Linked DNA regions of Homo sapiens: regions 2 and 3 are each linked to region 1. Evidence: fine-mapped expression QTL. A gene starts in region 1. Each other region holds a variant in brackets. All regions are shown on one strand. Distances are from middle to middle. Region 1 holds the start of MS4A7 (membrane spanning 4-domains A7). Region 2 holds the start of MS4A5 (membrane spanning 4-domains A5). Region 3 overlaps MS4A4E (membrane spanning 4-domains A4E).

What was found. PIP is the estimated chance that this variant, and not a neighbour inherited with it, causes the effect.
Region 2: its variant is fine-mapped to the expression of MS4A7 in whole blood (TOPMed, PIP above 0.99).
Region 3: its variant is fine-mapped to the expression of MS4A7 in lung (TOPMed, PIP above 0.99).

The regions. Positions count from the first base shown.
Region 1 is chr11:60,373,767-60,384,065 of GRCh38, reverse strand. It overlaps MS4A7 (membrane spanning 4-domains A7), which reads right to left and starts at 5,534. Exons shown (of 7, transcript NM_021201.5): 1 at 5,402-5,534; 2 at 778-937. The coding sequence starts at 924. RefSeq lists enhancers at 5,533-5,582, 6,263-6,502.
Region 2 is chr11:60,425,551-60,435,849 of GRCh38, reverse strand. MS4A5 (membrane spanning 4-domains A5) reads right to left here and starts at 6,278. Exons shown (of 5, transcript NM_023945.3): 1 at 6,023-6,278; 2 at 4,926-5,054; 3 at 3,383-3,439; 4 at 1,933-2,085. The coding sequence starts at 6,175. The variant G/A (reference allele first, on the strand shown) is at 5,558.
Region 3 is chr11:60,200,653-60,210,951 of GRCh38, reverse strand. It overlaps MS4A4E (membrane spanning 4-domains A4E), which reads left to right. Exons shown (of 9, transcript NM_001393391.1): 6 at 2,258-2,359; 7 at 5,132-5,238; 8 at 5,994-6,062; 9 at 9,073-10,299. The coding sequence ends at 9,409. MIR6503 (microRNA 6503) reads left to right here and starts at 1,796; the gene lies at 1,796-1,881. RefSeq lists an enhancer at 8,983-9,838. The variant A/G (reference allele first, on the strand shown) is at 6,595.

The DNA of each region.
Region 1 (10,299 bases):
TGGAGATTAAAGTTCTGGATATGAGGGATGATGATCTGGGACACTTGGATGTCTTATAGTTACTCATATGAACGGGGAAAAATGGGTCATGAGATTAGTCTTGATCGTCTCATCTCAAAATATTTGAAAAATAAGCTCAAAGTTAATTTAATCATATTGAGTAAAATCCATATGGTTAAATAGAAAATTTTTACTGTACTAATGACAAAATAAGAAAGACTAATTTGTGGCTGGGCACAGTGGCTCATGCCTGTAATCCCAGCACTTTGGGAGGCCAAGGCGGGCAGATCACAAGGTCAGGAGTTCAAGACCAGCCTGGCCAGTATGGTGAAACCCCATCTCTACTAAGAATACAAAAATTAGCCGGGCGTGGTGGCGTGCACCCATAGTCCCAGCTACTCGGGAGGCTGAGGCAGAAGAATCACTTGAACCCAGGAGGCGGAGGTTGCAGTGAGCTGAGATCGTGCCACTGCACTCCATGCTGGGTGACAGAGGGAGATTCTGTCTCAAAATAAATAAATATATAAATAAATAAAATAAGAAAGACTAACCTGTTAATTGTGAAGCATGCTAGTGAAAAAGATCTAGTGGTTTTAGTTTCTAGAAACTGCTGCAGAGCTTTAAGAGTCTTCCCTTAAAGCTCCATTTCATGTCCTCATTAGCCTGGAGTCAGCCAGAAAAGAGTGAAAGAGTTTCCCAGACCCACTGTAGATCTGTAGTCTAGATACATTTACAAAGTATTTTCTCAGTATTCCCCTTATAATGAGGTGGACTTACCCCAAGAACGGTGGTTTCTGTTGGCAGCCCGTTCTGCAGGTAATCTTCGTTTTGGTACATGTGTCCAGGTTTCTCTCTTTGAGGGATAGTGATGCCCTTTGGTGTAAAGCTGTGAGAAACCCCCATGGTTTGGGATTGTAATAGCATGATGCTGATGATGCTGGAAGAGGCATCAAAACTCAGTTACTTCCCAAGGTTTGACTTACAGACATAAACTTCCCAGGGACCATACTTTGTAGGAACTTAAGAAGGTATTTGCCATTATTCCAAGGCTGGTTGTCCTTCAGAAACAAAACATGGGGATCAGTGGAGCATTGGAAAGTGGGCATGCTGGGCACAGTTCATCCATTGTGGTCAAGAAGCATGTCACTGGGAGAGTACTGTACACATTTTGAGGGGTCCCACAATTGAGAGGTGAGCAAATCACATAGAACTTGCTTTGTAGCCCTGAATGTGTCCATCTCCCTCTCCCTCCAGTGACCTCTGCTTCCAGCTTCCCTTCCCTATCTCCTGTATCTCTGCTTCACTTGTGCTACCTTCTCACACCACATCTTCCAGGATTACACTTTTATGCTACACCTGCACTGATCAGTCTTCTACTCCAGTCTTCATTTTGTCTTCGTAAAAATGTTGAGGATGAATGCTGTTCCACTTTCCTTTCCTATAGCGAGATGGCCTGTCCCATCCGGAATCTTCCTCCTTGCTTATATTGGCTTCGTAATTAGTAATGTAAACATTTACTTAACTCCTGCTGAATTCCAAGCATTAGACCATTGCAGCTCTAATCCTTATAACAACCCTGTAACTTACATGTTATTAAATCAATTTTATACATTAGAAACCTGGGGCTAATAAGCTCAAGTGACTTTTATTGAATGAAATAGTCACATAAAGTACTTAGCCTGGCACTTAGAATGTGTTCAATATATGGTAGCAAATATTAACAGCCTGTGTTTACATGACTGGATTGAGACTTGTCTGGCTCAGACGCTTGTGATATTTTTTTCTCTATGCCATGTTAATTCTCCTCCTCTTCCTCTTCCTTCCTTTCTTCCTTCCTAACATTTCCAGTTCCCTTGTAGATTCCAGGAGCAAGTTGTCTGCCACCACTAACTCAGCAGCATTGCTGGGCCTCTGTGGTGTCAGCAACAAGGCTCAGCACCTGAAATGTTGCCCAGATTTGTTTTCAGCTCAACATTCTCCCTACTGAAGGCCAGAGTTTAGTTAAAGGCTTGTCATCCTTGAAAGGTGCCACAGCTCTGCTGCCTGACATTTTGCCTCAATGTGTTGGTGCTTTAGGAATGGTTCTGGCCTCTCTTGGGTGGAGTGAAGAACATGTAAAAATTGGAAATGACACCTAGAATCTCTTCCTAGTGAGGGAGATGGAAAAGTGCACTGGGATGGGAGTCCAATGCCTAGGCATCTAGTTGCACATCTGACCATATGTCTTGGAGTCCAGTCGTGTGTTCAGATCCCATATCCACCAGTTACTGCTAAACTCACCCTGGGCAAGGTATTTTCACCACTTCATAGGTTTGTGGTACAGGTTGGATAAGATGACACATATAATGGACTCAGCATAGGGGGAGGCATGTGATAAACTCCCAAAACATATCAGTTTTATCTAATATTCATTGGAAGCCCAGTTCTGATATTGATGAGCTGGCCGTAGGCAGGATACTTTCCCTCATTCATCCCCAGTTTCCTTATCTGTAAAATAAGGATAATGACACTATCCTGAAGGACTCTTGTGAGGATTTGAATGACACACGTGAGTGTCTTTTGTTGTAACTCTCTGAGTTTTATCAGGTGTTCCATAATAGTCGATCCATGTTTGGACCTCCATTTTATTTCTACTCCTAGATCTGTGCCTTAGTCTAGTTTCTCATGCTCTCCGGGCATGAGATACTTTATCTGAAGAATTATTAAACCTAAAGTTCTCTTTGTTTAAGGAGATAGTTTTCATTTCTTGGAATTTTGAAATCTGGGTAGAAGTGTGGGTGAGGTTACATGTCCTATGAGGGGAATAATGTTGAAGCTGAATCCCTGCAGTGGAGTCAGGGTGAGCCTTCCAGCACATCTTTAAAGCCAGAGAAGGAGAAAAAGTGTCAGGCTTAGAGAAATTCTAGGTTCCAGAATCAAACAGTAGTTCATGATAAAATGATAATCATTGCTAACATTGATTGGGCACGTACTATGAATGTGGCATTCTATTAAGAGCTTTGTGACAGTCTCATTTAATCTGCAGTCTCAGAGATGGGTGCTGAACTTTGAAGATAAGAAAAATGAGGCTTGGAGAGGTGAAATAGCTTGTGCAAGATTGCTTATCTAGCAGGTAGTGGAGGCAAGATTTGGGCACAGGCCATCTAACACCAGAGCTCTTCTATATCCCTGTAGGTTTGTTCTTGCCCGGCTAGCTACAACTGATTCTCATCCTCTCTATTCTTCCTCCCCTATTGTTGAAGCATTGGCTGCCACTCATCAGTTCCATATCCTCTCCCAGGGACATTGCTGATCTTAGGGAATATAGGTTGAAGATTTCTTTTTCCCAACTTGCTTTCATGTTGTAGAAACTTGGCTTTTACCTTGCTCTGTGTGGCTCAATAGCCCAAATATACCAACTAGACTCCTTCCTACTAGTCTTCGTCACCAGCCTCCTGAGTTCTGGGTTCCTTTCTTTATTTTTCGAATCTCATACCTAAGGACTGCAGAAAATGCTTGATTCTCAGCCTGAAGCTAGGACTCGAAAGTTTAATTGATACTTTCAGGCTATAGCCTATCTGATACCATGAACATTTATTTTCCTTTGTTATTTCTTAACTGTTTGTTCTGTTTGAAAGAGTGCATAAAGTACCACCATTACAAGGGAATACAGTTTGAAGAAGAAAACAAATTAGCTCCTTAACTTTCAACTGCCACCCGATCACTCTTGTTTCCTATGCACATATTCTTTACATTCTCTCTTCCCATCTGTCACTTTATCTCTCTCCTCTTTATATATGTTCACAGACATTCACAATTCTACGGAAATAGTCATTCTATCCATGCCATTTTATAACTGTTCTTTTTGTACTCAACATTATTCTGTAGACATCTTTGACCGATGAATAGAAATAATAAAAAGCCTAAATTTAAAAGCAAATGATAGATTCTGATACATGGCACAACATGGATGAACCTTGAAGACAATATGGCAAGTGAAATAATCCAGTCACAAAAGGACAAATATTGTATGATTCTACTTATGTGAGGCACCTAGAAGAGTCAAATTCACTGAAAGTAGAATGGTGGTTGCCAGGGGCTGGCGGGAGAGGGGAATGGAAAGCTATTGTTTAATGGGCACGGAGTTCCAGTTTGGGAAGACAAGAAAGTTCTGGAGTTGGGTGGTGGTGATGGTTGCACAATGGTGTGAATGTGCTTAATGCCACTGAACTGTACACCTAAAAATGGTTAAGGCTGGGTGCAGCGGCTCATGCCTGTAATCCTAGCACTTTGGGAGGCCGAGGCGGGCAGATCACCTGAGGTCAGGAATTCAAGACCAGCGTGGCCAACATGGTGAAACCCCGTCTCTACTAAAAAAATACAAAAATTAGCCAGGCATGATGGTGAGTGCCTGTAATCCCAGCTACTCAGGAGGCTGAGATGGGAGAATCGCTTGAACCTGGAAGACAGTGGTTGCAGTAAGCCGAGATCACGCACTCTAGCCTGGGTGACTGAGCAAAACTCTTTCTCAATTAAAAAACAAACAAACAAACAAACAAAAAACAACAAAAAAACACATGGTTAAAAGGCTACAATTATTTTAAGCATATTTTACTACAACCAAAAAGCCAAATGGTATATTTAAATAAATGGAGGTCTCTAGATTCATTTAATCAATCACATGTTCATGACTATTTAGGTGGTTTCTATTTTTTCTTTTTGCCACTATGAACAATGCAATAATGAACATCTTTGCACTTTTGTGATACCTCCTGCATTTAATTATCTCACAGTGATGTATGGAAGTGGAATTATTACATTTAAATCTATGACACTTGAATTTAGATACACGTTGCTACTTTTAGAAGGAATCCTATATAACCAAGATTCTTTATGTTTCACAAAAGTCTCCAGACTGATGCTATCATCTCCAAACACCACAGTCTGAGAGGATGCTTTGTCCTTCCACATTCGCCTTGAGGAGATAGACTGGAGGGACCCACAGCTTTCAAGACAGCTCTAAAATCCGTGCTTTGAAGATAAATCATGACATGGAGGTCAACAGCTCTGCCCAGCAATTTTCTGTATTACAGAATTAGAGTAGGACCATGGGGTTCTAATGCAAGATTCAGTCTAATTGCACAGTATTTGTTGAGAGTAGACTCTGTAAGACTGAGTGACACACCAGGAGAATGCAGAACATTGAGGAAAATCACCTCAATGAGGGAAACCTAAGAATGGTTTTACCCAATTTTCTTATTTGACAAGTGAGTAAACTGAGACCCAAAAAGGGGACTGAGCTGACGCTCCAACTCACACAGGTGGTCAGAATCAGAGACAGGATGATAATCCAATTCCCTGGCTGTCTTTTCAAAAGCACACAATCTTCCCCAAAAGTCATGATCTAAACCAAGGTGTCTACCTGTTCTCGCAGCCTGGTCCTGTGTGCTGTGGCTGGGGATCAGCTCACCTCTGGGGAGCGCTCAGCTGGAACCTCCCACTGGCTGTTCCTGCCAGAACGATCTTGGTGCTCTGCTCTCCAGCCTCTGAGACTTCCTGTCCCTTTCTTAGAGCAGTATTTATGATTACACAGGATGTGAATTTTGCTGTAGTTACAGACAGTTGATATATAAAAAGTGCCTCTGCTTCCTCTTTCTAAATTCTGAGGTCTGGCAAAATGACACAAGATAGAAGTGACACATGAGAAAAAGACCTTTGTGCAGACTAGTGATTTGTACGGTCCCAGTTAAAATTCATTTTCCCTACTCCTACATAGAATTATTTAAGTCATCTAGTTTTGCTTAGCCTGAGTTTTCTTGTCTATTAAATAAATGGTGGATGGATAATAATAATTCCACTCTGTGGGTGTTGGGAGAATTAAAGAAAAAAGATGCAAAGAGTTTACAAAAAGTAGACAATAAATATTGATAATAGTAATGTTAGTTTTGAATTTTGGAGAATCTATTCTCTCACTTTCCAGGCTCTTGGTAAGCTGAAAGCAACCTGTGGAAAATTCCGTGTCTCCTTGTTACTTCTTTTGGGTGTTTCCATTCTCCATCTTTGGCCTCATGCTCAGGGAAGTCCAGGCACATCTTGGGAAAGATGCCAGTGGATTGGCCTCAGAGGCAGAGTCATCAGGCTCCACACAAGCTCATATTTGGGGAAGTATTTGTTGTTGAGGGGACACTGTTGCCACTTTCACATCCCTTTTAAGGCTTCTTGTAGACTAGCCATTGTTCAGAAGGGTAGGGTTTAAGATGGCTCTGGGACATGCAGCAGCTGGCGGCACAACATGCTCCATATACAGTCTCCATTTCCTGAAGGGTGGCAAGGCTATCCCCTAAGAGAGGAGCAAACCTAAGCCTGGGAGATTTAAATAACTCATAAACTACTTGGAGGGTATTTTAGTCCAGTTCTTCTCCAAATGAGGTGATATTGCTGAAGGAATCTGCCCCCAGTCACATGTCTAGTCTGTGGAAGAGGCAGGAATCTAATTCACATCTCTTGGCACTGAGGTCTGGGCTTGCTTCATGGCAAGAGTCTGCCATTTGGTCAACATCTTTTTTTTTTTTTGAGATGGAGTTTTTTGCTCTTGTTGCTCAGGCTGGAGTGCAATGGTGCAGTCTCAGCTCACTGTAACCTCCACCTCCCAGGTTCAAGTGATTCTCCTGCCTCAGCCTCCCCAGTAGCTGGGACTATGGGTGCCCACCACCATGCCTGTCTAATTTTTGTATTTTTACTAGAGACAGGATTTCACCATGTTGGTCAGGCTGGTCTCGAACTCCTGATCTCAGGTGATCCACCTGCCTTGGCCTCCCAAAGCTGGGATTACAGGTGTGAGCCACTGTGCCCAGCTTAGTCAACATCTTCATATCCACAACAAGCACTGTCTTTGCTTAAGAAAACTTCCAGGATCCAGACCTTCCTCTGGGTCTATGACCTGTTTTGACCAAATTGTTAAAGAACCTTGGTCATTTGGGCTTCTTTCACACTTCTGAGCCTCAGAAGGAATTCGTGAGAAAATCAGTTAAATATCCAGTTCACTTTCTCATAAAATTTGAAAAAAGATTTTTCAGAATTGTTGTGAGGATTAAGTCAAATAACATAAAAGTCCCCACCATAGAGCCTGACATAAATGAACCATTAAGAAAATCTGGTATTTCTTGTCCAACATCTTCTCCCACCCCCTTTAGAGAAAAGTGTATTTTATCTCTAGATTGATCTCTGATCTCTAAGTGTAATCTATGTTTACTCTAAATTCATGCTCTTTTCCATTGATGGAAATCTCCTCAGCCCTTTGCAAACAGTCCTGGTGCTCTAGACAGGCAAGTGACTCACAGTCCTAGTGCCTACTTCAAGGATACGATCTCCCCGCCATCCCCACCCCAAGCAGACCATGAAGCTAGTAAAATGGAAATGCGTCTTATATGTTGGAGGACTCTAACAGCCTTGGACAGACTAACTGTATTTTTTTTCTCTAGCAGTGGAGATGACGGGCTGGGGCTAGGGCACAAGGTCTGGTTATCCAGAGAGAGATTCCTTGGAGCAGTGTTCATAGACCCCCCTGATGTTTGACTTGGTTATTGGCTCCACTCACGGAATTTTCTCCCTGTTTCTTAGAATCTCGTATCACGCCACCGGAATGAAAGTGAAACGATTTTTCCCCCCAACTTCAGCATTTTACAGGTGGGGAAACTAAAGGCCAGGGATTGCTTAGGGAGTTAGTAGTGACTGGGCTGTGGCTGATTCATGCAGTTTCTATGTCTGTATTATTTCAGTGTTTTCTTTATGCCTTTGCAGTTCTTTAATACACAGGTAATGACTCTTTCTAGCAAGTATTCTCTGCTAAAATAACAGAAGGTTTCTGTCTTTTGGCTGATAACCTAAATTACAGAGAGGTTAAGTAACTTACCCTGTCACACACCCTAGAAAGTAATGAAGTCTAGATTTGAATCCAGGTAATCTTAATTCAGGGACTGTGCTCTGTGATCGTTTTTTTTTTTTTTTTTTTTGACGGAGTCTTGCTCTGTTACTCAGGCTGGGGTGCAGTGGCGGGATCTCTGCTCACTGCAAGCTCCGCCTCCCGGGGTCACGCCATCCTCCTGCCTCAGCCTCCCAAGTAGCCGGGACTACAGGCGCCCGCCACAACGCCTGTTTAATTTTTTATATTTTTAGTAGAGACGGGGTTTCACTGTGTTAGCCAGGATGGTCTCGACTCCTGACCTCGTGATCTGCTCGCCTCAGCCTCCCAAAGTGCTGGGATTACAGGCGTGAGCCACTGTGCCTGGCTGGGACTGTGCTCTTAACTGCTATATTATTACTTCCAGGAACTTGCTTTACTGGTCATCTGGACTTGAACAGTAAATCCCCAAACCTGGTGTGAGACCCTACCTTCCAAGTGAAATACAAACAAATGGTTATTTCCTGGTGCTCTTGATATCAGAATTGCTGGGACTCACCATTCAGTGATGATGAATAGGGCAAAAGAATGCAATTATCTCAAATGGGGATGAGGCTGAGCATCTCTAGCTTTGTATAACTGGAGGCTACACATGACAATGGGCATGATGGGATGACTAAGCATGGGGGAGTCTCTTTCTACACCATCCTCAGCAGCTCTGCCAGGTTTCTGCCTCTCTTGGTCTCTGCCTCTGCTGATCTCGCCATGCACACAGCAGGCCTCGCGTAGTACTTCACAGAAAATCTCCTTACTGAAAAGGTGTAGGGCACAACATTCCTTTAAAAAATTCCACATGAAAAATATTCCTCACTTTTCATTGAAATACCACAGTTTGAGTGCTTCTTCTGTGCCAGGCTGTGTTCTAGGTGCTTGGATTGCATCAATGGACAGAACAGAAAAAACCACCTTCCTCTATGGTGTTTTCATTCTCCTAGAATGTTCAAATAGAACAGTGAGGAAGCATACTACATAGTCCTAGTAATAAGCCTAGTAACAAGGTGAATAGACCAATGGAACAGAACTGATGTTAAGAATAGCATTTTACTCAGGATTAAGAAACTGACTCAAAACCACTCAACTACATGGAAACTGAACAACCTGCTCCTGAATGACTACTGCGTACATAAAGAAATGAAGGCAGAAATAAAGATGTTCTTTGAAACCAACGAGAACAAAGACACAACATACCAGAATCTCTGGGACACATTTAAAGCAGTGTGTAGAGGGAAATTTATAGCACTAAATACCCACAAGAGAAAGCAGGAAAGATCTAAAATTGACACCCTAACATCACAATTAAAAGAACTAGAGAAGCAAGAGCAAACACATTCAAAAGCTAGCAGAAGGCAAGAAATAACTAAGATCAGAGCAGAACTGAAGGAGATAGAGACACAAAAAACTCTTCAAAAAATTAATGAATCCAGGAGCTGGTTTTCTGAAAAGATCAACAAAATTGATAGACTGCTAGCAAGACTAATAAAGAAGAAAAGAGAGAAGAATCAAATAGAAGCAATAAAAAATGATAAAGGGAATATCACCACCAATCCCACAGAAATACAAACTACCATCAGAAAATACTATAAACACCTCTACACAAATAAACTAGAAAATCTAGAAGAAATGGATAAATTCCTGGACACATGCACCCTCCCAAGACTAAACCAGGAAGAAGTTGAATCCCTGAATAGACCAATAACAGGCTCTGAAATTGAGGCAATAATTAATAGCCTACCAACCAAATGGCTCTCATGGGGTGAATAAGCTTTAACATATTGAAACGAGGGGAGTTTTCCCTTATCCCCCTTGCAGGGTGCGTGATGGGGGTGTGGCTCACTTCTTTGGTGCCCCGCAGCTCAAACCCCTAAGGGAAGCATGCAGACGGGCAGGTCATGGGGAGCGTGGGCTCCGACTCCATGGCAGCATCTAGGGTTGAGTGTTTACAGCTCCCGAAGCCCAAATGGGTGTATGTTACAATGTGCTCTTTCAGCTTAGCCGTCCGCAGGCACCTTGCTTTAATGAGCTCAGTTAGACCCTCTACCTTATCGCAAGGACAGAGGGCTTTCTGTATCCCAGGGTTCTTGCCCAAGTGTCCCAGAAAAATCAGATCATATGTGGGCTTGGAGAGTGAGTGCAAGGTTTTATTGAGTGGTGATAGTAGTTATCAACAGATGGACAGGGAGCCAGAACGGGGATGGAGTGGGAAGGTGGTCTTCTCTGGAGTAGGGCTGCTCAGCAGCCTGGCTCTCCTCCAACCACCCTCAGCTGAATTTCCTTTGGTATCTGCTTTGTTCTGCCATCGATGGTCTGCCAGCAACTGTTGGTGTGTTCTTCTGCCAGTGTGTTCCTCTTGACATCCAGCC
Region 2 (10,299 bases), 52 kb before region 1:
AGCCTTGCTGCCGCCTTGCAGTTTGATCTCAGACTGCTGTGCTAGCAATCAGCGAGACTCCGTGGGCATAGGACCCTCCGAGCCAGGTGCGGGATATAATCTCGTGGTGCGCCGTTTTTTAAGCCCGTCGGAAAAGCGCAGTATTCGGGTGGGAGTGACCCGATTTTCTAGGTGCCGTCCGTCACCCCTTTCTTTGACTCAGAAAGGGAACTCCCTGACCCCTTGCGCTTCCCAAGTGAGGCAATGCCTCGCCCTGCTTCGGCTCGCGCAGGGTGCACGCACCCACTGACCTGCGCCCACTGTCTGGCACTCCCTAGTGAGATGAACCGGGTACCTCAGATGGAAATGCAGAAATCACCCGTCTTCTGCGTCTCTCACGCTGGGAGCTGTAGACCGGAGCTGTTCCTATTTGGCCATCTTGGCTCCTCCCCCCTCATTTATTTCTTAAAACATGATAAATATTGTGGTTTTAAAATCTCTTCTAATATACTTAGTATCAGAAATTTACAGGTGATTTTTTTTTTGCTATGTTCTGTTTCTATTAGTTGTTATTCGCATTGTCTTATTTCTTTTTAGGCCTCTTTTGAGTGCTTACTGTTAATTTTCAATGGAAAATTTGATGGGAATTTATTAAGATTAATGAATGTTTTTCTCCTAGATAGACTTCGGTTTTGCTTCTGCCAGGTACCAGGGGCACCACATACCAAGACCAAATTCAGGTAAAACATTCTTGCCTTATCCAGTTTATGCCTAGCAAAGGTCAGTGGGGATTGGGGCGTGCAAGGAGGTTGTCAAGGGGTTTGTTTGGCTTGTGGCCACACTTCTCAAATACTTTTCCTTTTTAAACTTTGTTCAGCGACTTTGCTATTTTGGGGCAGGGTACGTTGTATATCTTTTTGCCCTTACCTGAAGAGCGTAGTAGCCTATCAAAGACCTAGTTTAATACGGAGAAAATCTCTCTTAAGTCTTTATACTTTGAGTGGATGTGAAACCTTGACTTCTTTCTCTTTCAGTCCACATGGGCCAGGGATTGGATTCCAAATAAGCATCACTGGCAAATGGGTCTGAAGGCATAAGTAGCTTTCATGCTCTTCAGAGTTCCACTTGTAAATTTCAGGTTGCAGGCTTTCATCTAAAAATTGATCTAGTAGTTCCAGCTGACCTTTCAGCTTTTTAATGTCTTTAAGGTTGTTTTGTTTTTTAATAAAAAGACTTCTGTTTTCAGAGAAGAGTTAATCCACATAGCCATACTTAACCATTACCAAAATCAGTCTCCCTATTTTCTGCTCTTTAGTCCTGCTTTCTGTGGACCTGGTGCATTCAAATATTAAGTATTTCTTAGGCTCTGCTGTAAGAAATATCTTCTAATATGACTTCCCCCTGCTTTGCCTTAGATGGTGGGTTTTCAATTTCCTCAGCAATTTTTGTGTGTGTTTGGTAACTCTCTTTTTCTCTCCATGTGGATCAAACCTTTTACATTCTTTTACACTAATCTTAGTGGTATTTTGAAGGCAGCTAAAATAAATGCCCCTTTTCAATCTTATCATGCTTTATCGGAAGTTCAGCCTGTTAAAACCAAATCAAGAACTGTAAAAACACACCACTGTGATTCTAATGTACATATAGGGCTATAAACTACAGCCATACTGCTGTACCTTTTTTTTTTAGATTTATATTTGTATCATACTGATTTGTGTATGTTTTATCTCTTGTGCTCCTGTGAATTCCTAAAGGTGGGAGTTATAATGTGTTTATTTTTCTCTTCCACAATGCCTGGTGTAATGTCTATCAAATATTATGGATTTCATAAATGTTTGTCAGTAAAAGAAAATACATGTGTCCACAACATGATCTGAATGGTGCTGATTGAGTGCTAATAAATATTTTCTATTAAGCCCTTTACTCATCACTCTATAAATGCAACATACTTACCAAGAACAGGACAGTAACAGCCTTACACTGACTATTTTGGTGAGAATAACCACAAATGTAGTTTTGATCTAGGATGAAACCAAATGTGAGGAGAATGATTCCAGCTATTGCTCCCAGGGCACTAAGAAAATTCATTATTCGGCTCAATATTATCTGAAATAGAATAAGAACATAACAATGTGACTGAGGTCCAGCCTGTACTACAAACAAAGCAATGAGTGCGGAGAATGGAGAGCAGGATTTTAGTCACAGCATCTTAATGCCACGAGGCAGCTCTGTGATCCTGTGCGAATTGCTTCACATCTTTGGGCTTCAGGCCTTCATCTACACAATAAGGGGATCTTGTGAACTTTTAGTAACCTTTCCATTCCCCATATTCTATGCCTAAGTTAACTCTTATTCAGTTGGGAGGAAGGGTGTGCCTGTAACAATTGCATTTTGATTTTCTGGTGAAAGTCATGGTCTGTTTACATTTTTATTTTAAGACTCCTAAGTTTAACTGAATGCTGCACTTCTCTGCCATTTTTAATTTCTCCCTAAAATGACAAACTAAGGATTTTCAGTCCTTTGCTAAAATCTTTTGTTGGCATAGTAATATCTTATGTCTTCAATTCTTTGAGTAAAGTAAAAATATTCTACTTATAATTTATCTATAACTTTACATTCAGTAGCACTGTATTCTTTATTTTGAGATTCTGTTTATGGTTTAATTAGATTGTCTACAGTTTGCCTTTCGTATGAGTCAAAGTAGTGCCTGTCAAAGTGCCTGGTATGCCGTAAATACCCAGAAAACAAAAAAGAATGAATAAGTAACTGGAATGTTGAAATAATTCTACCATTAATTGGCTGGGAATTTGGACAAGCTATTTAACGATTGTAAGCCTCAGTGTCTTCATACATAAAATAAGAGCTAAACTAGATGACCTAGAGAAACTTTCTCCTCTAGCATAATGGGTTATAATTCTAGGAAAACAGGAAGCAAATGCTGTTTATTGGTATTAATACTTGATAGTTTGTGGAATTATGGTGACCTAATGATTTTACAAATTTTTTTCAAGGCCAGGATAAATTATTTGAAAGTTATATATTTTTAATAAAGTGGAAATAGTGAAAATGTAACTCATTACTTTTTTTTGTTTTTTTTTTTTGAGATGGAGTCTTTTCCGTTGCCCAGGCACGATCTCGGCTCCTTGCAACCTCCACCTCCCAGGTACAAGCAATTCTCCTGCCTCAGCCTCCTGAGTAGCTGGGACTACAGGTGTGTGCCACCACACCTGGCTAATTTTGTATTTTTAGTAGAGATGGGGTTTCACCATGTTGGCCAGGCTGGTCTTGAACTCCTGACCTCATGATCCACCCGTCTTGGCCTCCCAAAGTGCTGGGATTACAGGTATGAGCCACCATGACTGGCTACAAAATATATTTTTAATAAAGTAAGAATATAACTCACCAGAGTTTCTGTGGTTTTTCTTTTCACTGCAATTAGGAAGGCTCCAGAATTAATGAACTGTTAAGAGGAATAAATATGTTAATGATGACCATGTTTAGCTGATGTTGAGTTCTTACAGAATAGACCTCTATGCATTTCTTTTACAGGCCCGCCTTCTAAGTTCACACACTCCTCAGGGCAGTGAGAAGGGTGAGTTGCTTTATATGACTTTCCACAAATGGAATAGTGGACAAAACACTGGTCTGGAAATCTCCTTTAGCCCTAACTATTTATTTGAACATGAACATTTTTTTTAACCGTACAGGGCTTTGGTTTACTCATCCATGTTCTTTTTATAGCTATTGTGGACTCAGCTTTGATCTCATGACAAAGGGATTTCAAGTCAGTTTATAATCATTAAGATTGGATTCCATCTTACTGCAATCCAGTGTGTTCTCTTGGATGGGAACATAAGGTGGGGTTGCAGTGAATGTGCTGGTAGTTCTTAAAATCTCCAAGATTTTTCTTGGAAGTGGGTCACACGTGGTAGCATTGTTGTCTAGTGGAAATTTCAAATCTGATTACAGCACTTCCATGTTTAAATTTCCAGCCCCTTCATGGGTATTTTCCAGCCTCATCTCTCCATCCTCACTCCCTGTGCTGAACTCTTATAGTTCACATAATAGAAAATGCTCTCCCATACCTTCAGCCTGTGCTCATATTTCTCCCTTGGCATGCAACAAGACATCCCTAATCCTTACACTTGGGTATCCCAACTCCCATCTTCTGTGTGTGTGTCCTCACCTGATTAACCATTCACCCTTTAAAACTTGGTCAAGCTGGAAATGTCTCTGGGCGTTGTCCCCTCTGTTTTGTTGATGCCTTTCCTATGGAGGCAGCCCCTGTGTTTATTCTCCCTCATCACACCCTGTGTTAATTGTCTGACTCCTCACTCAACTGAGACCTTGAGCTCAGGCACTGCTTTCTTTTCCCTGAAGCCATTGCTCTGCCCATTCTCTGGCACTAAATTAGGTCCTAAGTTAATGTTTATTGATTGTGACTACACTGGGTTTAATAAATACCTCTCCGCAGCTCAAAAGGTATATCTGAGAAACCCTTCCCACTTCACTTCTGTAAAGAATAAATTGCTCCTTCATCTCTGCTTACATAAGCATTTCCTGCACCTCTGTGATAACATTTATCACACTGACTTGAAGTGACCTGTTTACATGTTTTCTTGCTAGACTGAGAGGTCTTTGGGGGAGAGGCCCATTGCCTTTCTCTGTGTATCTGGCTTATAATAAATAGTAACTAATTTCAAATGAATGAATAGCCAAATAAACAACTGCAAGCCTCAAAAGAAGTATTCCCAAAGGAACTTCAAGACCTAATGATGGAATATCAGTGACTGTGATGAACTAATGGGGAAATAATTTCAACAAGGTTAGTTTTTTGCACTTTTGAAAGCATGTCATACAACTGGATCTAGCTTATTTCATTGTGAAGAATTCCCTAACATCCTGGTTGGCATGGCTTCAAATTGAACTTGATTGACTATACTCACCAAAACAGAGCCCCAGAATGGATATCCTGAAAGAAATATAAAGGGAAACCTTGGATATGGTTTTAACAAGGTGAAAAGGAAGATAACTCCAAAAGAAAAGGTCATAATTCCAAACAGGATCTGGATAGTCTGCAAATAGAGGAAAAAGTCATGGTGAGGAAAAGCAAAGTGATAGTTTCCCTTCTGTTTAGAATATCTTCTTTTGGTCAAAAGGATTTGGCAATTACTCTCTTTGGTAATTAGGGGAAGAATAATAGAAGTCCCTTTATGATGCTCCTGGGTACTTTCTTAATTCCTCTATCTGGTATTTGGTGATAGGTAAAATGATCTAAATCAGTGCTCCTGAAAATGTGGTCCATGGATTGGCAACATCAGGATCACTTGGGAGCTAGAAATGCGAACTATCAGGCCCTATCCCATACTTACTGAACGGTCTCCAGGTGAGGCTGGGAAACCTGTGTCTTCATAAGTTCTTCAGTTCTTTAGCCCATAAATGTGAATGTCTGAGAAACACTGAATTCTAAATGAGTATACCAGGCTGGCCTCAAGCAGAATTGGACTGTGAGGAGCCCTGCCTGGAGATGGCCAATTCTCTGAGCCTCTTGAGGTATTGTCACACTCTCAGGCCCAGA[G/A]GACTCTCCATCTCTTCGGGTTTTTTTTTTTTTTCTCTCCCTCTCTGAGCCACTCATGTGATGCACTGTGACACCAAGCAGTGGTTTGACAAGTGCTGGGAAAGACTAATGAGGACAATATACAAAAATGGAAGGTATACAATATACAAAAACGTGTGAGTCTATGTGCTCTGCTCTCTTCTTCTCAGTCCACCTTCTCAGTCTGAGTAATCTCATTTACTGCCATAGCAACTATCACTTTTTAAGTAGGTGAGTCCTAAATGATAGCATTTTTTGTCAAGTCCAGACCCACATGATTCGTTCTTCTCAAACATCCTCTCTCAAATGGCCCACCAACACTCTATATTCACATTGTCTTAAAGAAGAATTGGAATAGGCTCCTACCTTCAAACATGTGCCAACAGATAATTTCCCTAGCCTTTCCCCTGCCTCAGTAAAATATACATAGGGGCAAGTCTTACTTACCCCTAAGATTTTCATTTTTCTAGCAAATAATTTTTGCAAGGGGCTTTGAGTTGAAAAGGTCGTGGCTGAAAGTTCTGTGGACTCATATTCTGAAGCAGTGATTTCTGGAGGAAATACCAGAAACACCGGACTGTGTGCGGTGCTTGAATCCATGATGGTGTCGGTGATAATTTGAAAGGAGATGATTTAGTTGGTACTTCAGTCTAGACCATGTTCTTTTCTTGTGCTGAGGCTGCCTGGAGCACTGGAATTGTTTGCTTTGTCTTGGAATTATAGAACCATAGAGTCACAGAGTCATAGAATCTCAGGACTGCTCAAGATCCCAAGATGGCTATAAGTAAAATGCCTGGGACTGGGGATCAGAGAACCTGACAAGTAGTCCTGGTTTAGTTAGGAGTTTACTGTGACTTTTGGCAAGTCACATCCCCCTCTCCTGGTTTCTGATTCCTCATATATACATTGACCAAATTGGACTAGATGATCTACATATAAAGACATTTTAGGGACCGCGCATGGTGGCTCGCGCCTGTAATCCCAGCACTTTGGGAGGCTGAGGCGGGCGGATCACCTGAGGTCAGGAGTTAGAGACCAGCCTGGCCAACATGGTGAAACCCCATCTCTACTAAAAATATAAAAAATTAGCCGGGTGTGGTGGCACGTGCCTGTAGTCCCAGCTACTCGGGAGGCTGAGGCATGAGAATCACTTGAACCCAGGAGCCGGAGGTTTCCTTGAGCTGAAATTGCACCACTGCACTCCAGCCTGGGCAACAGAGCAAGACTCTGTCTCAAAAAAAAGGACATTTTAGTTACCAAATGGCAACTAGATACACATTTATTCCAGTTCCATATCTTCAGACACAGGTAGAACGCAAAATCTCTCAGGCCACGGAACAAATTAACCACTTCTTGAAGTATAGATAACATCCATTTTTCCTGTCACTTTGTGGTTTTGCCACCTGATTTAAGTAGCTTTAGCTGTGTAACAAATCCCTCAAAATGTAGTTAGTTCCAGCAACCACCATCGGCTTTTGTTTACACATCTGTGGGTCCTGTGTGTGGTCTGTCTCATCTAAGGCTGCTCAGCACTTCTCTACCAGGCTGTCTCATGCAACTGTGGTCACCTGGTGGAGTGTCCAATTACATGAATTAGGATGGCCTCAGTCATGTCTCTGGCAGTTGGCAGACTCTTGGTTCTCTTCCAATTCACAAATACTTTTCAAACCTCTGCTGAGTCATGTGTGTTAATGTCATATTGGCCAATCAAATTTCATAGACAACCCAGATTCGAGGGGTAAGAAAATAGGCCCCCTAATGTCTTCATGGGAGGATCTGTACTTTCATCTTGAAAGGACAAGAAAGAAAGGGAAGGGAACAATTTGTGTCTGTTTTTAACTGTACCTTGTCATTTTCTGGTGTTTCCTATTGAGATCAGGTCTTCCTTAATTGAACCTCATGATGTGACAGCCTCTAGCCACTTACCAGTTGCCAGTTAGAATATTTTAAAAGGCCACCCCTCCCTCACAATTTCTTTTCTCTGAACGTATCCATCTCTTGTTCAGTTTTCTATGGACGTTGAATCATAATGGTGATTATCCTTCATGAACATCATCTGATGTTGTGTTAGCATTCCCTAAGTTAAGCACACTATGTTGCAACATACTTTTATAAAACACCATTTCACCCTAATTACTCAGGTTTTAACTTTGCTCTATACCTTCCCCAGTTTTTGTTTTTTCTCCCTCTAAGCATGATGACTAGCACAGTGTTATAATAGCTATCTGACAAATGGCAGAAATATAACTTTAATTTTTTATTGTTCTTTGTTTTTTATTATTCTTTAATTCATGCAATCTGGTGATGCAGTGGAAGACTTACTCTTTGGAGAAGAGAAACCTAGAATGAACCCCAAGCCCTTTTATTTACTATTTATGGGGTCTAGGCTAAGTTATCTATTAATTTACATATTTATTAAAATATTACATTTCCTTTATGAGAATAAAAATTGTTATACAGTTATTGTGAGTAAATTTTAAAGTACCTGGAGTGTAGTAGATGCTAAGTAAATTGTAGTAGTAATAAAAATAAGAGTAATAAGTATTATTTCTCTTATTATTGCCATTTTTAGCATGGTGAGCAGATACTTTGTCTTGCTTTATGTTTGCACTCTTTCCAAAGTTCATTTTTTGTTGATTCTTTATAGGTTAAATGTGTTTCTATGAGCTTAGCTATAATACTGGAAATGTCACACTGAATCAGTGCAGACATTATTTTATTTTATTTTTTGAGATGGAGTCTTGCTCTGTTGCCCAGGCTGGAGTGCAGTGGTGCGATCTCGGCTCACTGAAAGTTCTGCCTCCTGGGTTTGCGCCATTCCCCTGCCTCAGCCTCCTGAGTAGCTGGGATTACAGGTGCCCGCCACCATGCCTGGCTAATTTTTTTGTATTTTTAGTAGAGACAGGGTTTCACCGTGTTAGCCAGATTGGTCTCGATCTCCTGACCTTGTGATCTGCCTGCCTCAGCCTCCCAAAGTGCTGGGATTACAGGCATGAGCCACCGTGCCCGGCCCCAGTACAGACGTTATTTTACAATTTCTCCATTTCAGGGTGGCTGTGGAACTCCATGGCCTCCTGCTAATAAATGCCCTAGGCCCCTTTATACATTGATGACATGTATCTGTTCACTACTTCAAAAATTTTCCATATCCTCATATTTCTTCTTATTTTCCAATCTGCCAAAACCTACTCTTTTAATGCAAATTACTCTAGTCTTAATGTGGTTTATGGAATAATATATAATATGTTTGTATTCATTAATGTTCTGAAATTCAGCCTTAATTTCAAGCTTCTTATTGCTAAGTATTCCAGAGAAGTTATGATGATCTGAGGAATCCAAGTTCTCTGAACCATAGTCAATGGGATTAGGCCTTTCCTCACAGCCTCTCGTCTGATTCCCTTGCTGGAAAGTTCCAAGAAAAACACTGTATTCTTTCTATCGTTCTTCTCTTACTGCAGCTGAAAGTCAATTTTCTTTGTTTTTAAGTTTCTCTTATTTTTCTCTGTTGTTAAAGCCCTCCTTTAAAAAGATCCATATCCATACTTTGGAGAGAACAACTCTGGGAGCAGAATTAGAGCAGTCAACTGTTGTGGCCAGATGTCACCCGCTTAGGAGTCCCTAAATCCTCTAGTTTTCTTTTGTTTTTAAAGTTTATAAATAATAATAGTGTCTTTAAATCTTATTCCATGAATAATGGTAAAACCCAGTGTCACTCTTAATGTCTCCAGACATTTCTTGGAAGGAGCAAGCGAATACGAGGGAAGGGGAACCACTGGGGCTTCTATCGTGTGGAGTGGTCTCAAGCTCTGATTTTCTGCATCTATTGAATTCTTAGTTTTCTCTGCATGTCTGGGCTTCTGTAAGTGATGACTGTTTTTCTCACTGCACTGTCCTGCTGGTTTTCATTCTGATTCTTCACTCCTCTAAGGTAGTAGTAGCACAGTCTTGCATATATAGCATACTTTAAAAATAAGATTAGAAGACCATTCTACAGAACCTACAAAGGCAGCAACAGGGATTTCCTACTGTATCTTCCGACATAAACACTCTAATTACTAATTTCGGACTTACACATAGGTATTAGATATTCCCTTTGTGACTACCTAGGAATTTTATGTTTAAAGAACAAAAAGTTTCTTTGTTTCATTGTGGTCAGATGGGATTTTTATGCCTTCACTCCCTTTCCCAATTTGCAAGAAGAAAAGGTGTATATTATTCTGCTTAGGGTGCTATGGTAAATTACCATGACTGCTTCATTTAAACAGCACAAATTTATTTCTCATACTTTTGGAGGCTGCGAATTCCAAGATCAAAGTGTCAGCTAACTTGGTTCCTTATGAGAGCTCTCTTCTTGGCTTGCAGATGACTGTATTATTTCTGTCCTCACATCATCTTTCCTTTGTGTGTACACAGGCATGTGAGCACACACACAAGGACACACACACAGAAAAAGAGCAGGAGACAGAGGCCTGGTGTCTTTTCATATAAGGACACTAATCCCGTCATGAGGGATTCACTCTCATATCCTCATCTAAACCCAACAGCTTCAAAAGCCCGTCTCCAGATATCACACTGTGAGCTAGAACTTCAACAAATGAATTTAGAGTGGGATGCAGTTCACTCAATAGCAGGGAGATAATTTGTATAATTCAGAATAAAGAGAGATACTTTGGTGGCATAAATTAGATCAAGTTTATGCCATAAGAAGTAATACCGACTAGTAA
Region 3 (10,299 bases), 170 kb after region 1:
TTAAAAATTTTAAACAAGACACTCTGTAAATTACGTAGCTGGTTCTGCATTCATCTCAATCACCTTTCCCAGAGGTCATGATGAATTCCTATTAACTGTGTGAACATTTTTATGCCTGTTCTAATAGCAGAGGACTTCCATAAGAGCTTTCTGGAATTTGAAGCAATGAGTCTCTTCTTGCCTGGGCACCTTTACATTCAGTCCACAGGTCTATGAGCCCATAGTGTATGCCCCATCACAGGGTTGGCACCCTGGTAGACATAAGAAAGAGAACAGTTCCCTACCACAAAGGAACTTTGGTTCTCCTGGAAGAAAAAGATAGAAATGCTGGAAAGCATATAATTATTAAAGAGGCCAGAAAAAGTTGAGCTCTAGAAAAAAGTAGTTAGAGTCTACCACCCGGAATCATTAGGCAGAACCATATGAAATTGCCAATGATCAACTATACTTAACCTAGAAAGACAGCAGTTTCGTATAGCTCAAGCTAAGATATATATGTAATTTTAATAAGAGAGTCTATAAATTACATAGCTGGTCCTGCATTCATTTCAGTCACCTTTCCCAGAGTCCATGATGAATTCCTGTTAATTGTGTAAACATTTTTATGCCTGTTTTTATAGCAGGGGACCTCCATAAGGGCTTCCTGGGATTTGAAGCAATGGGTCTATTCTTGCCTGGGCACCTGCACAATCAGTCCACAGGTCTATATACATGCTATGTTTTTGGAAGTCCAGCCCTGTATTTGTTTTTGTAAATAAAGTTTTATTGAAATGTAACGAACCCATTTATTTACATATTGTGTATTGCTGCTTTTGTGTTATAATAACAGGTTTGAATGTGTGTGCCAGAGACCTTACGGTCTGCAAAACCTAAAATGTACATTATCTGGCCTTTACGGAAAGCTTGCCATCTTCTAGTCTACACTTCTAGATGGTAAAATCCTTGAAGACAGGGGAATTGTCTGTTTTGTTTGCTGTTCTATATTCTGTGCCTACAACAATGTTTGAAACACAGAGGCCGCTACAGCTGTTGAAGGCACAAGAAAATAAAAAAGCAATGAATGCAAATATTCTCAAGGTCTCCTTAAGTCTGCCTCACTCATATCCTGAGCTCTTGGTCTATTGGCTCTTCCGCAACAGAGGGACTATCCCTAACCATGGAGAGAAAAAGAGAGAATATTTAAACCAGATAATCCCTGCATCAGTCCGGGGTAAAATTAATAGAAATAAGTGTACTGCCCAATTGTTCTCCAAATTTTGACTATGTTTCTTGGCTGAAGACTAGCCCTAAAGCCAGTGCTCTGGGGAGATGGATTAAAGACTGACCTACGTGATGTTCATTGTTGTATTAGCTTCTTATTGTTACTGTAACAAATTACTACAAATCATTAGGCAGAACCATATAAAATCATTTAGTGTCTCAAGACAATACAGTTTGGTTATCTTCTGTTTCTGGAGGTCAGAAGTTCAAAGTGGGTCTCACTGGGCTAAAATCAGTGTGGGCAAGGCCGTACTCCTTTCTGAAGGCTTAGGCAACAATAAGTTTTACTGCCTTTTCTGGCTTCTGTAGGCTGCCTACCTTTCTTGGTTTGTCATCCCATCCTCTACCTTCAAATCAAGCAATGCAGCATCTTCAAAACTCTCTTGAACTCTATTCTGCCTCTTGCTTCCACTTATAAGGATTCTGTCATTACTTTGAACCCACCTGAATAATCCAGGAAAATTCTCTCATTCCAGCTAATAAGCAACCTTGATTTCAGCTGCAAATTTAATCCTTTTTGTTGTGCAAAAAGAACAATGGTCCCCCCAGGGAGGTCTGCATTCAAATCCCCAGAAGCTGAGGATTAGGGGACTAGGATGCAGACCTCCCTGGGGGACCATTACTCTGCTTACAATCACGAAGATATGGAATCATAGTATTTTTTCAATGATATGAGTTTCTAGTACTCAATAGGATATGATGACAATTATCTTTATACTACCTTCCTAACATTTTAAAGCACTTTCATCTTCCATGCCCACAATAGCACTGGGAGGTGCTGAACTAGGGAATAAATGTCTGTGATTATTTTATTAGTGAAAAAAGTGAGAAGCTACTTCAGCAGATCAAGAATTGGTCAAGGGTATGGCTGCCATTGGGAGGCAGGTTTCCTGACTCCCAGCCAGTGCTTTTTCTCTTATGACACTGTGGTTGCTGGGAAATGTTTTCACTTGTCATCTCCATTTCTCACATTCCCTTGTTATGAGTTTTCTCCTAGGGTACGGATGGCATGGTGCTCCTCTTAAGTGTGCTGGAATTCTGCATTGCTGTGGCCCTCTCTGCCTTTGGATGTAAAGTGCTTTGTTGTAGCCCCAGTGAGGTCAGTATTGGCCTTCATTTGAAGGTATCTGTATTACTTTTGTATTGCTGTATAATCAGTTAAACAAACTTATAGTCTTAACACAGTACACATTCATTATATTTCAGTTTCCATGGATCAAGAGTCTGGGCCCAGTGGATGTGGGTCCTTGGTTCAGGATCTTATGACTCTGTCATCAGGGAGTTGGCCGGGGCTGTGGCCTTGTCTAAAGCTTCTGATTCTCTTTCATGTGAATGTGGCGGAATTAATTTCCTTTAAGTTGAGGACTCATGACAATGTACTTTTTCTTTGAGACCAGCAGGAGAGCCAGAGTCTCTAGTGCTTTAATCCTCTCATAAAGCATTCACATGAAGAGGTGAGGTCCATCCAGAATAATGAGTTTTTTTATAAACTGAAAGTCAACAAATCAGTCCTACATACGGGACTTGTATCCCATCTTATACACAGGTTTCATCCACACTTGAGAGAAGGGAATCACAAGGGGTCAGTGAGTGTCACCTTAGAACTCTGCCTAGCACAAGAGCTAAATAAAAGCTCTTTTTCCCCTTCCTTTCTCAAAGGGCATAACCTCTGAATCCAGATAAGAAAATATTTCACAATGAAGAGGTCCCCAAAAGTACTTGGTTTTATTCTATTATCCTATTACAACAACTTTTCCTGGAATACGGAAGGAATGTCATGATCTCAGACTTCTCTATCAGTCTGTGCCCACCTGCCCACTCTCTTACCCTGAGACCTGCAGCAGATGCTCCTGGCAGTTAAGCCAAAAGAAAGTTACACAGAGAGAGGAAAGTGAGGAATGGAAGGAGAGAAGAAATCAAGAAAGAGGCTCTAAGAATAATGGGGTGGGATATCCTCCTAGAATTGAGGGTTCCAGAATGAGGAAATGGATAGTAAAACCCCAACAGCTACTCATTAGCTTCATTACCCAAAGTCTGAAAGGCAGACAAAACCGTCAGCCAAAGAATAAAGTAATTGTAGTTTGAGGAGATTGTTTCTCTGGTGCCCTTCTCCATCATTTTGTGCCTCTCTGTCTTCTTTAGGGATTCCCAGGCAATACCATATCCCACTCCCCGACAACCCTCCCTCATAGAAGAGAGATTGACTATAGCGCATTAACTCTAGTGGTGGGGTTTTGCATTGTAAAACCCTAGAGGTGAGAGATTCTCAGCAATTACCAATGATTTTGTAATTTCATCAAGTGAAGTAACTTTCATGTCATGATATTTAAGTCTGTGTTCCCTTTGGCTCTTTGCATAGAAGCTGGGGAATGTTGTTTCCCTAATCCCCTGGTTTGAGTCCAGAAAAGCAGTGGCTTTGGGGCATATCTTGGCTAAATCTCTATCTCTTCCTGGTCCCCCACCGTGCCCTACCAATCGAATGTTGCACTGAGTTTGTGGAAGAATAACCAGAACTTTTCTTAGTTTTGTGATGATCCCTGCTATTCCAGGCCAGTGTGGTTTTTGCAATGCTTTATTTGTAACCAGCAAATCATGATTTGGGTATGTTGATGTCATCAGCATGAACAACCTGGTTTGGAAGAAGAGCCCCATATTTTTCATGATACCTTGGTTTACCCATCATATTGTGCACTGTCATCCACATGTAAGATTGATCCTCTTGCGAGACCAGGGCAGTGGTCATCAGCAGCTCAGGTCAAGAGCTATCACTGAATGTTGTGTCCTAAATCTAGCCTGATCTAAAGAATGACTGAGAATCCCCACATGACTGATATTGAGAATGAATCAGAGAAGAAAAGAGTAAACTCTGATAATGATGACTTTATGTGGGCAGGAAAGGGGCACTCTGAGGTGATTTGGGTGACTCACCTATGGCATTCTGATTGTTTGTGCTAATTACACCATCAAATTCTCACATGGCAGAAATAGCATCTCCCACACCACTTAAGACAGTTTGATGCCACCAAAAGATTAACAGAAGAATGCTCCAGAAATCTATGCTGACTGTAACACAAGAACCCCACATGAGAAAGTACCAGAATCCAACTCCAATACTGATAGACATATTGATATCATTATTATATGGAATCCAATTATGACCTCTGTGTGTGTGTGTGTGTATATATATATACGTATATATATACATATATATATATATGTGTGTGTGTGTATATATTCAAAATTTTGTTCTCATTTTTTCCCCTGGAACTCAACAACTAATTTCATTGGCCCTTTATCGAGAGTACTAGAAGTTAAATTAATAAATAATGCATTTAATGAGGCAGCAGCACTTGAAAGGTTTTCATTCATCATTAGGACTTTATATAAAGGCATTAAACTGGCAAATAAGATTTGGAAGCAGAAGGGCAAAAAGGTATTGCTAAAACGAGGTCTCCATGCAAAACACATACTTCTGCTCCCCTGTATAACATTCCTCTCACTTACTTGACTTTTTTTCTGCCATATTTGGGGACCAAAGTGCTTTTTCCTTCATGAAGTGGAGATTCATGCCCTTCTCCCCCATCCTTTTCCTTCTGCTTTCCTTCACCCATAGAAAGTACCTTGGAATAGTATAGTCAGTCCTTGCATGTGCACAAGCTATCATTTCAGTAAAGGTATACATGGAGTAAAAATCATATGAAGGATCAGATTCAACTTATATTTTCTATTTTTTCTTCTTCCTCTCCCTTCCCCCACCTTCTGCTGGGCAGAATTATATCTTAATCAAATGTGTATCCTGTGTCACATATGGAAATGTGCAACATATGGTATTTGTTAATGTTTGTTAATTACATTTGCTTTTTTATTGCAGAGCAAAAATAAAATTAGAAGCAATACTTTCATGTGCTACCTCCTTTCTATTCAGATGCAATATGATGGAAAGAGACTAAATGTTGATGTCGACAGTACTGTATGGTGGTAAATAATGTGGACTTTCTAATCAGACAACCCTGGGTTTTCATCTTGCTATCCCATCTTTGTTGTTTACTACCTATGTAGCTATGAACATGCCACAAAATTTATCTGTGCTTCATATTTCTCTTCAGCAAAATAGTAATAATATTGTCTGGCCCATAGACCTATGATAATTTCTTGGTATAATAAAGATAGAGCAATTAGTACTCTGGTACATATGGAGCCTCAAAAGCTTTAATTAATACATATACATATGTACATATATACATATTATTTATATTTGTCAGTTCATCATTTTATTCAGCATATATTTGTAAAGTATCTACAATGGGGCAGACATTGTTTTAAGCATATAAGAAAATAGCGGTGAATAAGAGAGATAATATCCTTCCTCTTGTAGGTTAAACTTTTATGGGACAGGACACAGATTAACATAAAACAATCAAAACATTTTTATATGCTGTTAGAAGCTAACTGTAAGAATTAATGTGCTGGAGAGTGGTTGTTGGTAGTGGTTGTGAAATATGAGTCATTAGAGAGTAACCAGGAAAGTTCTTTTTGAGGAAGCGATATTTTCATTATGATAAGATAAAAAGTATTGAATTTGCATGGACATTCATATTTTCCAACTCAGTATATAGGATTTCTCATTCTGCCCTACACTCACGTATCTATTGTATCCACCTTTCTCCATGCACGCTTTTCATGGGAATGTGAGGCCCTCCTTCTTTCAATGCTAACCTGTCTACTTTCTCCAGCTCCGGAGATGGACAGTATCTGGAAAAAGTCTATTATGACATTCTATCTTCTTGGTTGAGGATTGAAAGGTAATCTAGCAAGAACCACCAAATAGAACCTTAATACTGTTGCTTACTATTATGTAGTATATAGAACCTTAATACTATTGCATAGATGTTCTATGTCTCTTATGGGACATCAGTGAGAATACATGTAGCCTACTTTATTACTGGCATACGTGTGTGTCTGTAAAGGAAGTATGTTTAAAAGAAAGTCAAATAAGCAGAAATAGCAATAAATGGAAATGAAATGAATGCTTGATTTCATGGATGAGCATCTGTCTGTCACAGGGTTCATATAGTAGCATGATGGCTGCTGATTGCAGCAAACTTACCTCTTCACAGCTTCAAGCCCAACAGGAAAGAGGAAAGAGAGGGAGATCATTTCTTAGACAGTGAAGTGAAAATGATGAGAGTAATTTGATTGGAAATGTGTCAGTCATTCACACAATTAATTTTTCCTAGGTCACAAAGCTACCACAGAACTTCACTCTAGTTGAGTTGATGTAATTTGCTCACAGACGAGCAGAACTGAGAAGCGCCAAGTGAAGGATCAGACCCT[A/G]GCAAAATCCTTTGCATCTCCAAGTCAAAGTTTACCTCAAGTTGGGCCAATCCCTGACGTTTTAAATATATAAAGGCAAGGGAAGATGATTAACTGCTATAACTGGGCAAAATCCTTCAATGGCTTCCTCTCTAACTCATAATAAAAGCCAGAACTCATACTAAATCCTAGAAGTCCTTACATCTCCTGATTCTTTGTTCTGTCTTGGATTTTGTAAAATATCCTAACTTATATCCTGATATATTGCCTTGAGATTATTTTAAGTGGCCTGAGAATGCCTTCTGTTGGTTTAAATTAGCGCATACATAAACTTTTTAAGGTTAACACTTACATAAGCAACCTAAGATTAGTACATTTTTAGTTGTAAAAAGCTAATGCAAATATTTTAGGCAATTCATGCAAAATATTATGATTTCAACTTGTAGAGAAGGCTGCCTCATTTATTTCATATCATGCAATTTTAAATTTATTCTTTATTTGGTTATTCTAGGTTCTATCTATAAGTGATTAGGATGTAAAGCAGTAGGAAAACGTCCATGAAAACTTTGCCTTCTTTTGCTACATTTACAAGAAAAATAGTTATTCTTTTTATTTATTTATCTAATTTTTGAGACAGGGTCTGGCTCTGTCACCCAGGCTGGATTGCAGGGGTATGATCTTGGCTCAATGCAACCTCCACCTCCTTGGCTTAAGCCATCCTCGCACCTCAGCCTCCCAAGTAGCTGGGCTTACAGGCATACACCACCACACCTGGCTTATTTTTGTATTTTTTGTAGAGACAAGGTTTCGCCATGTTGCTCAGGATGGTGTTGAACTCATGAGCTCAGGCGATCCACCCACTTTGGCCTCCCAAAGTGCTGGGAGTACAGGTTTGAGCCACTGCACCTGGCCAAGATAATTATTCTTTACATACATGATTAAATTCCCCACAACTTACTAGCTGTGGGTAGCTTATCATTGTGTTTCTTCAGTTTCCTCATCTATAAAAATTACAATAGTACCTACCTTATAGGCTCTTACAAAGACTACAGGTATTATTAAAACTTGTAATCACAGAATGAAGATTGACACTGGTAGGCGATATGAAAAGAATGGTGAGTGATACTGATAGGTGACATATAAAGAATTATTAAACAATATAAAAGCAAATAACAAAGTAAAAATAAAATAATAAAATAAGCTAAAGATTAACATAAGTCTTAATTTGAGCACATAAGCAGTTATTATACTTTTAAATATTCAGGAAAAGAAACAGATAAGTGTGTCCACAGAATTCTGATTTTTAAATAACTGTACTAAGTATAAGAGTAATGTCCATATGGGACACAAAGAAGCTGCACTACCCTGAAAATCGGTAATTTTCATTAACTTCAGTGAAGTTTTAGAAGTGGGAATTTATAATATTACTGTTTCAAATTTAATACCAGAATAATCTAAGATTCTCTAAAAATGGAGTCATCTTCCCTCAAACCTATTTTCCAGTCATTGTGAGTTAGGTAAAATGAGATTCCAACTGTAGTACAGTTTTCCACTGTCAATAGTAATACGCAATTGGGATAAAGTAGTGGATCTTTTTCTCTAAGAGAGGAGTATTTAACTTCTACAGATGTCATATTGAGAATGACATGGCAGAACAGGCACCTGGAGTCAGGTGGAAAGGATGATCCTCCTACAAGTAATCAGCTGGGCATGCATATGATATAAATCAATTTTGTGTTTAGGAAAAACTCAGTGTGGGTCACTTAGTGGCTTTGATGTATATTTGGAAACTAGGACTGTTTTCGGTTTGGGTAATAGCTCTCAGTTGGCTATCTGAGAGGATTTTTAGGACAGAAGAAACATAGTAGGGAACAAGAAAAAGACTATAATCTAAGCCAATGTAGTGTAACACAGGTGCATGCATTCAGATAATTTTAGAATGCTACTGACCAGATTGAATGGCAAGCTCCCATACATTCTATATACAAAAACATCAGAAAGTTATTTAAAAATGTGTACTCTGTCATTAATCTTCATTGTAAACACATTCATAGCACCAAAGGATAGGTTTGTTGTGGAAATATAGCAACAATTTGCCAACAGCACACACCATAAATCTTCTTCAAATCTTCAAGAGATAGGTCCTCACCTACACCAATTCCTTTCCTTTAGATCATCTCAACTTGTATTAATAAGACGTAGAGGCAATTTGATTCTCTGTCTGCTTAGTGATTGCAAGTGGCTGCTCTGCTGGGTTGAAGTTAGGCCAAGAATTGCCTTTGTATTGGCTGGTATGTACATGTCTGAGAGCAAGGGCTCTGGCAATTAGTGACAGTGGTTAACCATCAATTTGCTCTGTGAATAATAAGGATAAAAACAAGTCATAAGGTCTTGAGTATATAAGGTGATATTACTGATAACTTCTAACTATAAGTAGTCCAACCTATTCAGGTAGAGTCAGTATACTTGGGACTAAAAATGATTTATTTTTTAAAAAAGTATTTATCGAGTGCTCAATGGTGCCCAGGCTGGAGTGCAGTGGCGTGATCTCGGCTCCCTACAACCTCCACCTCCCAGCCGCCTGCCTTGGCCTCCCAAAGTGCCGAGAGTGCAGCCTCTGCCCGGCCGCCACCCCGTCTGGGAAGTGAGGAGCGTCTCTGCCTGGCCGCCTATCGTCTGGGACGTGAGGAGCCCCTCTGCCTGGCTGCCCAGTCTGGAAAGTGAGGAGCGTCTCTGCCCGGCTGCCATCCCATCTAGGAAGTGGGGAGCGCCTCTTCCCGGCCACCATCCCATCTGGGAGGTGAGGAGTGTCTCCGCCCGGCCGCCCATCTTCTGAGATGTGGGGAGCGCCTTTGCCCCACCGCCCTGTCTGGGATGTGAGGAGCACCTCTGCCCGGCCGCGACCCCGTCTGGGAGGTGAGGAGCGTCTCTGCCCAGCCGCCCCATCTGAGAAGGGAGGAGACCCTCCGCCTGGCAACCGCCCCGTCTGAGAAGTGAGGAGCCCCTCCGCCCGGCAGCCACCCCGTCTGGGAAGTGAGGAGCGTCTCCGCCAGGCAGCCACCCCGTCCGGGAGGGAGGTGGGGGTCAGCCCCCGCCAGGCCAGCTGCCCCATCCGGGAGGGAGGTGGGGGGGGTCAGCCCCCCGCCCGGCCAGCCGCCCCGTCCGGGAGGTGAGGGGCGCCTCTGCCCAGCCGCCCCTACTGGGAAGTGAGGAGCCCCTCTACCCGGCCAGCCGCTCCGTCCGGGAGGGAGGTGGGGGGGTCAGACCCCGCCCGGCCAGCCGCCCCGTCCGGGAGGGAGGTGGGGGGTTCAGCCCCCCACCCGGCCAGCCACCACGTCTGGGAGGGAGGTGGGGGGGTCAGCCCTCTGCCCGGCCAGCCGCCCCGTCCGGGAGGGAGGTGGGGGGTTCAGCCCCCCACCCGGCCAGCCGCCCCGTCCGGGAGGGAGGTGGAGGGGTCAGCCCCCCGCCCGGCCAGCCGCCCCGTCCGGGAGGTGAGGGGTGCCTCTGCCCAGCCGCCCCTACTGGGAAGTGAGGAGCCCCTCTGCCCGGCCACCACCCCATCTGGGAAGTGTACCCAATAGCTCATTGAGAACGGGCCATGAGGACAATGGCGGTTTTGTGGAATAGAAAGGGGGGAAAGGTGGGGAAAAGATTGAGAAATCGGATGGTTGCCTTGTCTGTGTGGAAAGAAGTAGACATGGGAGACTTTTCATTTTGTTCTGTACT